Regions from separate parts of the Homo sapiens genome. Here region 1 is linked to region 2. The links come from fine-mapping of genetic effects on gene expression. Tissue or cell type: fibroblasts. Region 2 holds a variant in brackets; the other region holds the start of a gene. All regions are shown on one strand. Distances are from middle to middle.

Evidence for each region. PIP is the estimated chance that this variant, and not a neighbour inherited with it, causes the effect.
Region 1: it holds the start of LITAF, and the variant in region 2 is fine-mapped to the expression of LITAF in fibroblasts (GTEx, PIP above 0.99).

What each region holds. Positions count from the first base shown.
Region 1 is chr16:11,583,509-11,591,683 of GRCh38, reverse strand. It overlaps LITAF (lipopolysaccharide induced TNF factor), which reads left to right and starts at 4,765. Exons shown (of 4, transcript NM_001136472.2): 1 at 4,765-4,798. RefSeq lists silencers at 4,412-4,891, 4,922-5,001 and an enhancer at 5,902-6,011.
Region 2 is chr16:11,624,264-11,632,438 of GRCh38, reverse strand. It overlaps a transcript of LITAF not described here. Among named protein-coding and RNA genes, the nearest start is that of SNN, 40 kb to the left of the region's middle. RefSeq lists an enhancer at 4,821-5,355. The variant C/T (reference allele first, on the strand shown) is at 4,470.

The sequences.
Region 1 (8,175 bases), 41 kb after region 2:
GGGTGACGGAGTGAGACTCTGTCTCAAAAAAAAAAGACTCTTTCTCCATTGAATGGTCTTGGCATTCATTGATCATAGATATATGGTTTATATGTAGACTCCCAATTTTATTTCATTGATTTATATGTCTATTCTTATGCCAGAACCACATGCTTTGATTACTGTATCTCTGTAGTAAGTTTTAAAATCAGAACGTGTGGGCCAGGTGCAGTGGCTCATACCTGTAATCCCAGCACTTTGGGAGGTGGAGGTGGGAGGACTACTTGAGCCCAGGAGTTCAATACCAGCCTGGGCAACATAGTGAGACCACATCTATACAAAAAATTTAAAAATTAGCTAGGCATGGTGGTGCGCACCTGTAGTCCCAGCCACTCTGGAGGCTGAGGTGGGAGGGATCGCTTGAGCCCAGGAGTTTGAGGCTGCAGTGAGCTATGATGGCACTACTACATCCCAGAATGGGCAACAGAATAAGACTCTGTCTCAAAAACAAAGTGTAAAAAACAGAAACAGTGGATCCTCCAACTTTGTTATTTTTCAAGATTGTTTTGGCTATTTGAAATCCCTTGTAATTCCATATTAATTTTAGGATCAGCTTGTCTATTTTTGCCAAAAAAGGCAGCTGGAATTTTGATAGAGATTACATTGGACCTGGGCCGGGCACGGTGGCTCACACTTGAAAGCCCAGCAATTTGGAAGGCCGAGGCAGGTGGATCACTTGAGTCCAGGAGTTCGAGACCAGCCTGGCCAACACGATGAAACTCTGTCTCTACTAAAAATACAAAAATTAGCCAGGCTTGGTGGTGCACACCTGTAGTCCCAGCTACTCGAGAGGCTGAGGCAGGAGAATCGCTTGAAACCAGGAGGCAGAGTTTGCGGTGAGCCGAGATCGTACCACTGCACTCCAGCCTGGGCAACAGAACGAGACTCTATCTCAAAAACACAAAACAACAACAACAAAAACAGAGATTACATTGGACCCGTACATCAGTTTGGGAAGTATTGCCATTTGTGATCATTACTTTTACACATCAACGTGGCTAGCCTATAGTACCCAGTTATTCAATTAAACACCAATCTAGATGTTGCTGTAAAAGTATTTTGCAGATGTGGTTTATTTTAGTTGACTTCAGGTAAAGGAGACGGTCTCCTTTACTTAATTCAATACTTTATCACAAAGTATTGAATATCTCATGTAATTTACTGAATACTATACTAAAAGTTAAAAACAGAATGGTTGTAAGGGTACTTGAAGTACGGTTTCTTTTGAATGTGTATCACCATCATAAAGTCAAAAAATCATAATTGAACCATCATTAAGTCTGGTACCATCTATATATGTATATATCTCCTCTCTCTTTCTTTGAAAGATTTCTGACTGATATACCACTTTAACTATATTAAATCTTCTGGTCCATGAATGTCTTTCCATTTATTTAGTTTTCTTTAATTTCTTTCAGCAATGTTTTGTAGTTTTCAGTGTATAGGTCTTGTTTGAACTTCCTTAGTTAAGCGTTTTCCTAAGTATTACATTCTCTCTCTCTCTTTTTTTTTTTTTTAGAGATGGGGTCTCGCTATGTTGCCCAGGCTAGATTCAAACTCTCATGCTCAAGGGGATCCTTCTGCCTCAGCCTCTTGAGTAGCTGGGACTACAGGTGTGTGCCACCATACCCAGCTTCTATCCTTTTGAGGCTATTGTAAATGGAGCCATTTTCTTAATTTCATTTTTGGATTGCTCATTGCTAGTATATAGAAATGCAACTGGCTGGGTGTGGTGCCTCACACCTGTAATCCCAGCACTTTGGGAGGCCCAGGCAGGTGGATGGCTTGAGCCCAGGAGTTTGAGACCAGTCTGGGCAACATAGCAAAGCCCTATCTCTACAAAAAATTACAAAAAAAAACTAGCTGGGCACAGTGGTACATGCCTGTAGTCCCAGCTACTGAGGAGGCTGAGGTGGGAGGATCGCCTGAGCTCAGGAGGTCAAGGCTGCAGTGAGCTGTGATCGAGCCACTGTACTGCAGCCTGGGTGACAGAGACCCTGTCTCGAAAAAAAAAAAAAAAAAAAAGCAACTGATTTTTGTATGTTAATCTTAAATCCCACAACTTTGCTGAACTGGTTTATTAGCTCTAATAGGTATTTAGTACATTCTTTAGGGTTCTTACATATAGGATCATATCACCTGTGAATAGAGATAGCTTCACTTTATCCTTTTCAATCTGGATGCTTTTATTTTTCTTGCCTAATGGCAATGGCCAGAACCTCCAGGACAATGTTGGACAGAGGTGGCCAGAGTGGGCACTTTGGCTTGTTCCTGTTCTTAGGGGTAAAACTTCCAGTCTTTTACCATTAAGTGTGTCATTAGCTCTGGGATTTTCATAGAAGCCCTAAGGTTGAGGAAGTTCCCTTCTATTTCTAGTTTATTATTATTTTTTTAATCATGAAAGCATTATTGGATTTCTTCAAATGCTTTTTCCGTCTATTGAGATGATCACGTGGCCCAGTTTACTTTTACCCCCTGGTTGGAAGCCTTGGGTTGGAAATTCAATCTCTGTGGTTTTTTGGGGATCAAAGAAAAGAGTTACAGTCTTATAGCTCTCCCCATAAATAATTGCAAGCTCACAGCCGTGGTAAGTGTTTAGGATGGATAAAAACACAAAGCTGGCTCCTGTTGCTGCTCAGCAGTTGGGGAAAGAAAAACAAATGAAGATGTGGTAGTATTCAGTAAAGGACAGAAGAAAATTCAGGCTTACTACTGCTTTTTACAGGAAGGAAGGGAGGAAGCGAGGAAGGGAGGAAAGGAGGAAGGGAGGAAGGAAGGAAGGAAGGAAGGAGAAAAGGTTGGGAGGGAGGGAGAGACAGAAAGGAAGGAAGGAAGAAAAGCATTCATACAGGGATGTTTCTTGAACGTTATCTCTGAGAGATTTTCCCTAGGTGTTATGTCTCCCTAGCAATGGTCTGTGATATTCTGTCTTAATGTCAGTATAATAATTGGTACCTTTGCAAGCCTTGGTTGCATCCTGAGAATGGAGGAATGGCAGAGGTTGGGTGTAATCCAATTTCCTGTTCTTCTCTTCTCCCTCCCTCCCTCCCTTCCTTCTTTCCTTCTCTTTCTTTTCCCTTTCTTTCTTTCTCTTTCTTTCTTCTTTTTCTTTCTTTTTTTTTTCTTTCTCTTTTCCCTCTTTCCCTCTTTCTTTCTTTGTTGCTTGCTTGCTACAGTGCAGTGGCTCGATTATAGCTCACTACAGCCTCAACCTCCGGAGGTCAAGGAATCCTCCCACCTCAGCCTCCTGAGTAGCTGGCACATGCCACCACTCCACCGCTTTATTATTATTCTTTTAATTAAAAAAATTTTTATAGAGATGGAGTCTCACTATGTTGTCCAGCCTGGCCTTGAACTCCTGGGCTCAAGAGATCCTCTGGCCATGGCCTCCCAAAGTCCTGAGACTATAGGCAAGAGCCACTGCACCCGCCCCCTTCATATTTTAAAAGCAGTAAAATGTTGCCCACACTAATAACATCTACATGGGAACCTCCTATGCTTGGGAGAACTTTGAAATCCCTTCCAACTTGGTAACTCGTCCACGGCTGAGGGTGGCCCGTCAGTGGACATGGCGCAAGGTGGCAAGAACTTGGGGCTGGGGACACTTTGCTGAGGGACCCGGGACAAGCCACACTCCCTATCTGGGCCTCACTATCTTTAGGACCTCGGGTAAAGGCATGGGATTTGGGCACCGGAGGGTTCTAAGATCCAGGTCTTTGCCAGCATGGGGCTCGGAAGCTCCCTGTCCAAATGGCGTTTGTTTGTGGATGGCCACATCATGGTTCTGCCCATCTCCTGACTCTGTGTACTCTGAAAGCCAGGCATGCTTCTTAATTCCCTCTAATGATTTCCCAGAGAGCCTGCTGGATCCAGGCTGCTGCTGTTATCACTGCAGCCGGCCGATGGGGCTCCAAGCAGACGGGCAGATGGCACCCATTTAGGGGCGGATGTGAAATGGGGCTACTGATTTCCAGAGCTTGCTTTCAGTGATGGCTGAGAAAGGCCTACCTGGCGGCACGGACCACCCTGGGGGCACAAAGCGGACAGGCAGCTGATAAGCCTTACCTAATACCTATCCTGTGCTAAAAACTTTACCATCTTCCCAGTTCACTCCCAGTCGGTCTTAGGAGACAGGACCGCTATTGTGCCCATTTTGCAGACAGGAAGCCGAGCTCAGAGAGGATGGGTAACATGCCCGAAGGCACAGAGAGTGTCTTGGTCTGTCCGGACGCGTCTGTAGAGTTACAGGAAGAGAAGGGCCGCCCTCCAGAGGGCCGGGAGCGCCCCAGCGCGGGTCCGGGGTCGAGGTTGGTGGTCCCGCCGCCTGGAAGTGGTGGAGCGGCGCGGGGAGGGGGGAAAGTGGGGAGAGCCGCGAGCGGCAAATCAGGAGGGAGGGCCAGGCTGTCGGGGGCGGACGGGTGGGGCTGGCACCGAGAGGCAGGGGCAGGATAGGAGAGTGGGGGAGACACCAGGTCCGCGCCAGGCGTCTCGGGGGTAAGCCTGGGAAGCTCTGGGGTGGCGAGCGAGCCGGGTGTGGGATGGAGCCTGGGGGCGATCAGAGTGAGGCGGGGAACCGGCGGTGGTCTCGCCTGGGGCCCAGGTGCGGGCCGCGGGGGCGGGAGAAGCCGGAAGCCCAAGCCGGCCGCGCTCCGCCCCGGCGGGTCCAGCCCCCGCCCCCGTCCCCGCCGCCCGGCCCTTTTCTCGGGGCGCCCGAGAGGCCAGCTCAGACCTCCCGGCTCGACAGGCGGCGCGGGCGGCGGTGAGTGCGGCGCGGGGACGCCGGGGCGCGGGGACCAGCGGGAGACAGCGGGGGGCCGGTGGCGCCAGCACCTGCTGGGGGCCCCGGGCACTGAGCCCTTGGCTGGGGCCTCCTGGGATGCCAGGGGGCGCGGGTCGGGTCGCGGGCATCGAGGCGCGGCGGAGGGCGTGGGGGCCCGGCCGGGGCGGGGTCCGGCCTCCCAGCGCTGGTCCCGGCCGCGTCTCCGGTTGGGTTCAGCTCCTGCGTCCCAGAGTGGCCCGATCGCGCGTGGCGGGGTCGTCCGGCCCCCACCCGAACGAGCGCCCTTCGCGGCCCGCCGCGTCCCCCTCCCCGGAGAGGACGGCCCCTGGGCTTTTTAGAAAAAGGCGCGATTCTCTCTAGTGACTCAGGTTGAGATTTCCAGAAATATCCCCCGGGGGTTCAGAAACAAAACCAAAACAAACAAAAAAACCCCAACGAATTCCCAAATGCTATTTGCCAAACATTTGACTTCTAGGGGCGCGGGTACCCGCGTTTCTCTCCCTGCCCCCGCGACTTCGCGCAAGATCCGGGAAGGACACCCGAGGCCCCTGGGAGACCCTGGGGAGGTGAAAATCAGAGAGCGAAGCGGGCCGTGGCCCCTAGGCCTGACCCCTCCCCGCGGGGTAAGGCGGGCACCCCGCGAGCGCAGGGGTCCTCTTACTGCTGATGGCACCCAGCTCTGGGCCCAGACGCCGCTCACCGTCCACCGCCGGTGCTGGGTAGGTGCTGGTGGGACCAGCTGGTGACTGGTGGCAGAAGTGGATCTCGCCCCTCCCTGCCAAGCTAGGCAAATACCCTCCCCGCTCTGGTTTGCAGGTCACTGTGGATAGGTGGTCAGTTGGTGGTGTGCCCGAAGCTCTTCGGGGTCAGGGAGAGGAGGTGATAGGGGAAAGGTGTATGTTCTGGAAGGGCCAGTCATGCTTCAGGGACCAGGCTAGTTGGACCTTCACTGGTTTTCTACTTCCCGACAGTGGAGCTGATGTCACTGGCTGTTGGACTGAGCAGTGGTCACTGGGAAATCTACAGTTTGTGGAAGCCACGGGGTCTTCCAAGCTCCTACCAGTCTTCCCAAAGAGGATGCCTCCCTCCCCTTGGCCTGGTGCACTGGTGCTGGTTCAAAGACTGTCTGAAGCCCAGCTTGGGGTCCTCTTTAGGAAAGCCATGATTTGCCTTAATGTGTGCTTGGCTGCTTCATCTGCCCTCTCACCCCCTGCCTTCTCAGAGTGACTCTTTTTAGGACTTCCTATTTAGGACTAACCCAGATGCCTACAGAGAGAAGTGCAGGCTGGTATCTGGAATTCCACCAGTGTTTTGGTTTTATCAGTTGGAGCAGGATCTAGATGGCGTGTGACTTGCTTTACCTGGCATAGAGTAACACCCATATTGCACTTGGCTTTCTTCTCCACCAGCCCTTGCTCTGGGAACTAAATGTGCACCAAACTCTCTAAGAAACATTTAATTGTAATCTACCATGAGGGAGGCCCATCTCCCTCTTTCCTGTTACTTTAAGGCATGAATAATTGATGCATTTATTCACATTTGAGAAAGTATCTTGTAATGTTTTCACAGATTAAGTGACTGGGTGATTGATCTAAGACGTAGGATCAATTTCTTTCTTTTTTTTTTTTTTTTTTGAGACAGAGTCTCACTGTCGCCTAGGCTGGAGTGCAGTGGTGCGATCTCGGCTCACTGCAACCTCTAACCCTCCCCACCCCACCTCAACCCCCTGCCTGAGTTCAAGCAATTCTAGTGTCTCAACCTCCCAAGTAGCGGGGATTACAGTTGGGTGCCACCATGCTTAGGTAATTTTTGCATTTTTAGTAGAGACAGAGTTTTGCCATGTTGGCCAGGCTGTTTTCGAACTTCTGACCTCTAGTGATCCACCTGCCTTGGCCTCCCAAAATGCTGGGATTACAGGTGTGAACTACCTCACCCGGCCCATTTCTTAAGTCTCTAAAATAGTAGATTGAAGTGTAATTCACTGTCTTTGGGGAATACATTTCCCTTTGTTACTTCCGTTCCTTTTATGGGCGGGCTGTTGAGAAATAAAGCGCTACCCTTGCCGTGTAAAGGATGCAGAAGAATGGCTCCTGGTCCTGAGGGGTTTACGCAATGGGTAGAAAGTAGAAACACACACCGGCGAAAAAGCTGGTGCTTGCTAATGCCCTTGTAACTCCAGAAAGGGCTTGAGAACAGTGGAAAGGAGGCAGCTAAGTTAGAGAAAGTTTCATGGAAAAACTGAGGCCTGAGCACATGTGGCAGAAGGAACATGAGGACATAGTTCAGACAAACAGGAGGGTCTCAGTAGAGCTGTGGAAGAGGTACAGACAAGCCCAGGTGGTTGAAGACAGTAAATGGAAAATCCACTGAGAGGAAGGAGCTGGAAGGCGTTTCCAGCCCAAGTTAATTTTCAAGAAAATAAACAGTGCATATTTTGCTGACATTACCCATCCTCACTGCTCAGAGGTGTATAATAGCACTTTGAGAATGGGCTGGTGCCGTTTTGTGACTTAAACTTCTCCCACTGAATAGGAATTTCCCCAGAGCTACAGTGAGGGTGGAAAAAAGAGGATCTGCAAGAGGAAGTCCTGTATTCTTGGCACTGTGACTTGTCCTCTATTTGTTTTCGCTTTTACAGCAGTGAAAATAGCCCCGTGGGTGAGGCGGTCTATCAGGTAAATAGACTTCCTTAGTTCTGTGTTTCTTTAGCACACATATTTTTGACGTCTCCCGGGTCTGTTTGGCCACCCATGGTCTGTTCTGAATTTGATTGATGTTTACTTGCCTAAGAATTGTTATTTGAGGTCAAGTGGCATTTTCCAGGGTCCTCATAATTTCATCTTGTTGTTTGAGCCTGTATTGATTGACACTCTGGACACAGGTGACAACAGCTTTGTAGCTAATGAAGTTGTCCCTTGGCTGCAGGTTATTTCAGTAGAAGAATTGTGTAATTTCATAGAGCTTAAGGCATGGACACAAGAAAGGAACCATTCTGGAGGGTGTCTATGTGATGGTAATTCTCTGCTCACCTCGCAGTAGGTAGGAGTTTATATACCAGGATCCAAAGCTGGAGGCTTCAGAGAAAATAATGTTGGAGAATTTAAGCTATTTAGCTCATGGAGCCTTAGATTTAATTGACAGTGTGCCTCAGGTAAGTTTAAGAGCTTAATGATGTCTTGCCTTAAACTTGAATCCATGAGGTTATTCCTAGATGATGCACTGATAGTTTGAAATTTTTTATTAAAAAATATTAAAGTGTGGAAGATAAAGAAGAAAGGCATAATCTTATAGAACGAAACAACTACCACTGGCTGTCCTTATCGGGCGGCTTCTGTCTTTTGTCTTTGTGCCTGTTT
Region 2 (8,175 bases):
AGTGGAGCATAGTAGCCCTCTCTGTCCCTCTCCCTGTCTCTGTCCCTCTCCCTGTCTCTGTCATCTCGGTGCCTCCTTCACCTTCTCTCCAGGGTTGAGCCAGTCGTCCTCACCTTTCTCAGTCCATGTGGGGAGGGGCCAGCGGATTGCCTAATCCTGTTCCCCACGGCAGCTGTAGTTACTTGATAATGACCCCTCCCCGAAAGACACGTCCACGACGTAACTCCCAGCACTTGTGAAGGTGACCTGATTTGAAAATAGGTTCTTTGCGAGGCCGGGCGCAGTGGCTCACGCCTGTAATCCCAGCACTTTGGGAGGCCGAGGCGGGTGGATCACGAGGTCAGGAGATCAAGACCATCCTGGTTAACACGGTGAAACCCCGTCTCTACTAAAAAGACAAAAAAATTAGCCGGGCGTGGTGGCGCACACCTGTAATCCCAGCTACTCAGGAGGCTGAGGCAGGAGAATAGCTTGAAGCAGGGAGGCAGAGATTGCAGGGAGGCAGAGATTGCAGTGAGCTGAGATTGTGCTGTTGCACTCCAGCCTGTAGACAGAGCAAGACTCCGTCTCAAAAAAAAAAAAAAAGAAAAGAAAAGAAAATAGGGTCTTTGCAGATGTCATCAAGTTAAGAATCTCGAGATGAGATCATCCTGGATTTAGGGTGGGTTCTAAACCCAATGACGGGTGTCTGTGTAAGCAAGACATGGAGCTTGAAGCCACAGACACCGGAGAGAAGGCGTCCGTGTGGTGACTGGGCACCATGGCTCACGCCTGTAATCCCAGCACTTTGGGAGGTTGAGGAGGGTGAATCCTTTGAGCCCAGGAATTCGCGACCAGACTGGGCAACGTAGTGAAACCCTGTCTCTACCAAAAATATGAAAAACTTAGCCAGCTGTGTGGCATGTGCCTGTAGTCCTGGCTACTTAGAAGGCTGAGGATCACCTAAGCTCGGGAGGTTGTGGCTGTAGTGAGCTATGTTCACGCCACTGCACTCCAGCCTGGGCAACAGAGTGAGACCCTGTCTCAACAACAACAACAAAAAGCCATGTGCAGAGTGTTGCAGCCCCCAGCCCCGGGATGCCTGGAGCCACCAGAAGCTGAAAGAAGCAAGAGAGGACCCTCCCTAGATCCTCCAGGGGGAGGTGGTCCTGATGACATTTTGATTTCAAGCTTTTAGACTCTAGAACAGAGAATACATTGCTGTTTTAAGCGCCTCAGTTTGTGGTGATGTGATAATTGCAGCCACAGGACACCGATAGCTCACTTGTAAGCAGCTTCTCCTGCAGTGCACTTACCCCATGGCGACCTGGTTATTTATTTTCTGCAGCCCTGAGTCCAAATCCCAAGTCCACCACACGCTATGGGCAGGTGACTTTAACCTTGTTAAGCCTCGGTTTCTGCAAATGTAAACAGGGAAAATAATATCAAAAATAAGCAGACAGTGCTTAGATGAGTTGGGTGCAAACAGAAATGACTGCTGTTATCGTGGCTACTGCTATGCATGGGAGGCTACCTCTTGTCCATGCATCAAAGGTAATGGCAGGCCGGGCACCGTGGCCCATGCCTGTGATCTTAGCACTTTGGGAGGCTGAGGCGGGAGGATCATTTTGAGGCCAGGAGTTCAAGACCAGCCTGGCCAACATAGTGAGACCACCCCGACCCCTGTCTCTAGAAAAAAAATAAAATAAAAACATTATCTGGACGTGGTGGTGGGTGCCTGTAGTCCCAGCTATCTAGGAAGCTGAGGTGGGAGGATTGTTTGAGCCCAGGAGTTTGAGGCTGCAGTGAGCTTTGATCTCACCACTGCACTCCAGCCTAGGTGACAGAATGAGACCCTGTCTCACCACCAAAAAAAAAAAAAAAAAAAAGTTGGCCAGGGGCAGGTAGGGGAAGGCACTGCCGCCAGAGAGACCTGAAGCTGTGGAGCAACAGGGACTCCTGTGTGCCTGGAGCAGGCGGGGCACAGGAGGAGGGTTGTGTGGTTTGCAATGAGGCCCAAGAGGTGTCCCCGCCAGAGCAGGGCCTGCGGGAGGCTGGGATTTGTCATCAGGGCTTTAGGACATCATTGGCGAGTTTAAAGCAGTTTCAAAGTAGCACTGTGGCCAAGGCCAGACTGCGGGCACCTCCTGCCAAGTTGCTCCTCAGAGAGGACCCAGCTTTGTGCCCCAAACCAATCGATCAGTCATGCCAGCTGGGGGTACTTTTCCATCCATAGGGGCTGAGGCTAGGAGGGGAAGTTGGGGAAGCCAGGACTCCCAAACACAGAGGTTTGGAGCCCCCCCAACGCCAGGGGTCTGGTTCCTATCTGGACTCCCATGACCTCCGTTCTTCCGGGGTCCTGTGTGCCCGCCTTGCACTTGATGAGAAGGAGCAAAACCTGACCCAGATAGAAGTGCGCTGAGCACCTGTGGGTGCTGGAATGAGTCCAGGAAGGCACCCGAACTCCTTCTCTTCCCTCCCCAACACCTGGCGACTGATGTTAAATCTCCCACCGTAGCAGCCAGGCCTGTGACACTTGGAGATGTTTGCAGAGCCATGATTTGTTGAGCACTTGCCATGCGCCAGGCTGTGGGGGGAAGAGCGCCTACCACATGGCCTTGTTAATCCGTACCGCACTCCATGAGCTGCGCGCCCCTGGAGCTCCACGCTGGAGACTTGAGTCAACCCAGAATCATGATTCGAAACTGGCTGCCTCTGCCTCCGAAGCCCTGGGCCCTCAAGCACTGAGCTCAGCAGTGTCTGTTTAATTCTTCCCACCCCAGCTGCAACCAGTCCATGAGCTCCTTCCCCAAAAGCAGGTGTGCAGCCAAGAAGAGGAAGGAAGGAGCCGGCTGCTTCGAGTGTGGCCGCTGACTGCTCACAGCTGTGTTTCCCACCCCTCACCCACCCTTCTTGGCAGCCCAGAGGGACCCCAGAAGGACCGACTGGCCGAGGACAGGTCCTCAGCAGGGCCCCCTTGCCTCCTGGTGGGACTGACTCAGAAAACTCTTACTTCAGGCCTGCCTTGGGATCAGGCCTCCAGCTGGGACCTGTCTGCTGTTCTTCCTCCTGCACCTTGTCTCCTTACTCCCCTCTTCTGAGAACCCTCACTTCTAGAAAACCACATGCACCCACATCTCCATCACAGGCTCTGCTTCTACGGAACCTCAACTAGGATGAGGTCATGTCTGACTTCCCGGCTGAGTGCCTTCCCCAAAGTCCTCGGTGTCCTGCGGACAGAGGCTCCTTCCCTGCGCTCAGCCTTCTGAGCCTTCCTCATCTGATGCCTGTTAGGCTCCCTTTGCTGCTGAGGTCCTGGGTGCCATCCCAGCACTTGGTAAGAGGGGGCAAGCCTGAGTGCCGTGGCTTATGCCTGTAATCCCAGCACTTCGGAAGGGCGAGGCGGGAGGATTACTTGAGGCCAGGAGTTCAAGGCCAGCCTGGGCAACATAGTGAGATGCCAGTCTCTAAAAAAACTAAAATAGGCTGGGAGCAATGGCTCACGCCTATAATCCCAGCACTTTGGGAGGCCAAGGCGGGCAGATCACTTGAGGTCAGGAGTTCGAGACCAGCCTGGCCAATATGGCGAAACTCCATCTCTACTAAAATACAAAAATTAGCTGGGCATGGTGGTGTGCGCCTGAAATCCCAGCTACTAGGAATGCTGAGGCAGGAGGATCACTGGAACCCGGGAGATGGAGGTTGCAGTGAGCTGAGAACACGCCACTGTACTCCAGCCTGGATGACAGAGCAAGACTCAGTTTCAAAAAAAAAAAGAAAAGAAAAAATATTAGCCAGCCGTGGTGGCACACACCTGTAATCCCAGCTACTTGGAGGCTAAGGCGGGAAGATCCCTTGACCCTAGGAGTTTGAGGCTGAAGTGAGCTATGATCGTGCCACTGCACTCCAGCCCGGGCAACAGAGCAAGATCTTGACTAAAAGAAACAAAAAAATAAAAAAATAGAAAGGGTCAAGACCAACTTTGTTTTTTCCCTTTCATTGGATACTTTCGGTAAAAGCAAGATCTCCGGATGTCTCCTTGTGCTCTGAGAGCATCTACTGGGTGTTGATCTGGGTTGGGCGTTCTGCAAAGCGTTTACTTGGAACTCTAGAAAGAGTTCCCAGGACTCTTAGCTGGAAGAGAAAGGAGAGGAGACACGCAAACATGGAAAATCTGGGGCGGCCCCAAGTTTAGCGAGTTATCTGGGGCCACACCAACCTCAGGGCTGGTTGGGGCTGGGATGAGTCATGGCTGTTGGGCAGGATTACCTGCTTGAGAAACGAACCAGGTCTTATTTGGGTATTGATTCATTACCACAGAATGGGAAATATTTTTCCCTTCCTGTGAATCTTTCAAGGAGCAAATGTGTCTTTGTGTTCTGCAGGACTGTGCTTGTCTTGGGCCAATGGAGAATTACAGGCCTTGTTTTTTTTTTTTTTTTTTTTTTTTGACAGAGTCTCACTCTGTCGCTCAGGCTGGAGTGCAGTGA[C/T]GCAATCTCACTGCAACCTCCGCCTCCTGGGTTCAAATGATTTTCCTGCCTCGGCCTCCCGAGTAGCTGGGACTACAGATGTGTGGTACCACGCCCGGCTAATTTTTGTATTTTTATTTATTTTTTGATATTGAGTCTTGCTCTGTTACCCAGGCTGGAGCACAGTGGCACAATCTCGGCTCACTGCAACCTCTGCCTCCCGGATGCAAGCCATTCTCCTGCGTCAGCCTCCAGAGTAGCTGGGGCTACAGGCGTGCACCACCACACCTGGCTAATTTTTGTATTTTTAGTAGAGATGGGGTTTTGCCATGTCGGCCAGGCTGGTCTCGAACTGCTGACCTCAGGTGATCTGCCCACCTCGGCCTTCCAAAATGCTGGGATTACAGGCGTGAGCCGCCACTCCCAGGCCTTGTATTTTTTTAAGTCTAATACATTAGTCAGGATGAATAGCAGAATGCTGCAAAAACCAGAATCCCACTGGAACTGGTTTATGCCATTGCAGAATGTATTGTGTCACTGGGAAGTGGGGAGGGCAAGAGCTTCAGGCCTGGCTGGATCCAGAAGCTCAGACCATGCTGTCAGGGATCTGTCTCCAACTCCAAGCCTGGCTGTTCTCTGTGTTGGCTTCATTCTCCAGTGGGCTTGCTCTACCTGCTGGCAAAGATGGTGCTGGGCAGCTCCGGGTTTTCATCTCACCAGCCTTGTAAAGAATTCGTCTTATTCAAGGAGCTCCAGCAAGGGTCTTGGGGTTGATTGTCATTGGCTTGGCTTGGGTCACATGCCCATTACTGGAGCAATCACTGAGGCTCAGGAGATGCTGGGTAGCCACTGGCCAGGCTTGGTCATGTGCATGACACAGCCCCTGGGGCTAGGAAGGAGGGACGCGTCTGCAGCAAAGGTAAGAGAGGCCGTCCACACCCGGGTTCCTAGGGGGATGGGATCAGACTGGAAGAAGCTTGTTTAGCCAGGCATGGTGGTGCGTGCCTGTAGTCTCAGCCACTTGGGAGGCTGCGGTGGGAGGATCACCTGAGCCCGGGAGGTAGAGGCTGCAGTGAGCCAAGATCGTGCCACTGCACTCCATCCTGAGCGACAGAGACTCCATTTCAAAAAAAAACAAAAAAAAGAAGAAATAAATTTTCACCAGTAGCACATTAAATAAAAATATAGTGGACCTAGTAGAGCTTGAAATGTTTTAAAAGGCCGGGCAAGGTGGCTCACGCCTGTAATCCTAGCACTTTGGGAGGCCAAGGTGGGCGGATCACCTGAGGGTGGGAGTTCGAGACCAGCCTGGCCAACATGGTAAAACCCCGTCTCTACTAAAAAAAAATTACAGGCTGGGCGCGGTGGCTCACGCCTGTAATCCCAGCACTTTGGGAGGCCGAGGCCAGCAGATCATGAGGTCAGGAGTTGGAGACCAGCCTGGCCAATATGGTGAAATTGGTCTCTACAAATACAAAAATTAACCAGGCATGGTGATGCCTGCCTGTAGTCCCAGCTAGTCAGGAGGCTGAGGCAGAAGAATCCCTTGAACCCAGGAGGCAGAGGTTGCAGTGAGCTGAGATTGCACCACTGCACTCCAGCCTGGGCAACAGAGCAAGACTGTCTTAAAAAAAAATTACAAAAATTAGCAGAGCATGGTGGTATGAGCCTGTAGTCCCAGCTGCTTGGGAGGCTGAGGCAGGAGAATTGCCTGAACCTGGGAGGCAGAGGTTGCAGTGAGCTGAGATTGTACCACTGCACTCCAGCAAGACTCTGACTCACTGTATAAAAAGAAGTTTTTTTTTTTGTTCGTTTTGTTTTTTTAAAGTAAAGTAGTGGGATCTTTCTCACAAACATAGGGGAACTAATTCATACCATTTATTGGAACAAGTCCTAAATTCTGGAACTTTCATCAATCAGCCCAGTCTCTGGAACTCCTGAGAAATTTACTAAGCGCATGGGATCTGGAATTGACTCCCAGGTTCAAATCCTGGTTCTGCCACTGTTCAGCTGTGTGGCCTTAGGCAGGTCACCCAACCTCTCTGTGCTTCCATTTCCTCATGGGCACTGGGGTCATGAGGTTTTCTGCCTCGTAGGACCATTGTGAGGATCAGATGAGGCTCCAAGAGCTTAGGGGGACTTGTCTGTGTCTCAGGGCTGGAGTTAGAACTAGCCTGGCTGACTCCAAGTTCTGGGCTCTTTCTGTCTCCAGCGCGGGCACACAGCAGGGACTCACTGACTGTAAAATGAATGAATAAATGAAAGATTAAAAGGGAAGGTTGATCTCTTTCTGCTCTGATTTCTGTCACTGCATTCCTTCAGCACACAACCTAGGGGAACTCAGGGTTTCTTAAGAAGCCTGTCTTAGACTTGGTTCCCCCAGAGGCTGATGCTGAGACAGAAATTTGGGTGCAAGTAATTTATCTGGAGCCAGGCACAGTGGCTCACACCTGTAATCTCAGCACTTTGGGAGGCGGAGATGGGCAGATTGCTTGAGCCCAGGAGTTGGAGACCAGCCTAGGCAACATGGCGAAACCCTGTCTCCACTAAAAATGCGTAAATGAGCCTGGCATGGTGGTACGTGCCTGTAGTCCCAGCTACTCAGGAGGCTGATGTGGGAGGATTGCTTAAGCCTAGGAGGCAGAGGCTGCAGTGAGCCGAGATCGCACTACTGCATTCCAGCCTGGGTGACAGAGCGAGACCCTGTCTCAAAAAAAAAAAAAAAGGTTTTTGGGAGGTGATCTCGGGAGACACCACCCACCATCACACCGGACCACAGTGACCTTCAGAGAGTCACGGCCACTGCTTTGTCTCCACTCTCCAAATTTCACTCATGTTCCTCTTTTGGTCATCTCTAACCAGAACCACATGGGGAGGAAATTCTGGGAAATTGAGTTCTCAGCTTCAATGAGTTGGCACAGCACAGTTCACCCAGCAGTTTGTCTCACCTTCCTGGGTCCTCCAGTCCAGAGCTGGTTGGTTGGGGCACCTTGGGTCTCCTTCACGTGACCTCTCACCCTCCTGGGGGCTGTTTGCCTTCTTATGGGGTAGTCTTATCGGGCAGTCTCAGGCAGCACGCCAGGAGGGTCAGAGTGGAAACTAAGCCTCTTAAGTCTTAGCCTCAAAATTTGTAGAGTCACTTCTACCATATTCTATTGGTCAAAGCAAGTCTCGAGGCCACCCAGATTTGAGGGGTAAGGAAATAGACTCTACCTCTTGACAGGAAGAGTTGCAAAATACTGCGACCATGTTTTTCATTTTCAGTCGATCACACTTCCCTTCCTGAAGATGTTTAACTGCAGTCTGTTGGAAATTTATCATGATAAATCTGTAAACATAGGGTGATAGTGAATATAAATGGAGACCCTGTAGAGATGTGCAGTGCACAACCTGTGCAACTGTCACGGCAGCCTTGCTGTGCAAGATGTCATAGAACTCACCTATTCTTCTCACATGCCCCACTGTGGTAGGCATTTGTTATTTTTGAATGTCAGCATCTAGGGCTCCTTCTGAGGATAGTAACTACCTATTTCCATTTCTATTCTAGTGAGGCTGACAGTCTCAGACTCCAGGGAGGGGCTTGTTATCATGAATTCTATTGCTGTAACCATAGAGATTGACCAGAGGATGGGCACGTGACCCACACCGGACCAGTGAGATTCAACCGTGGGAGTTTAGCTGGAACTATTGGAAAATATTCTCTTTCCACCAAAAATGTTTAGTTGGT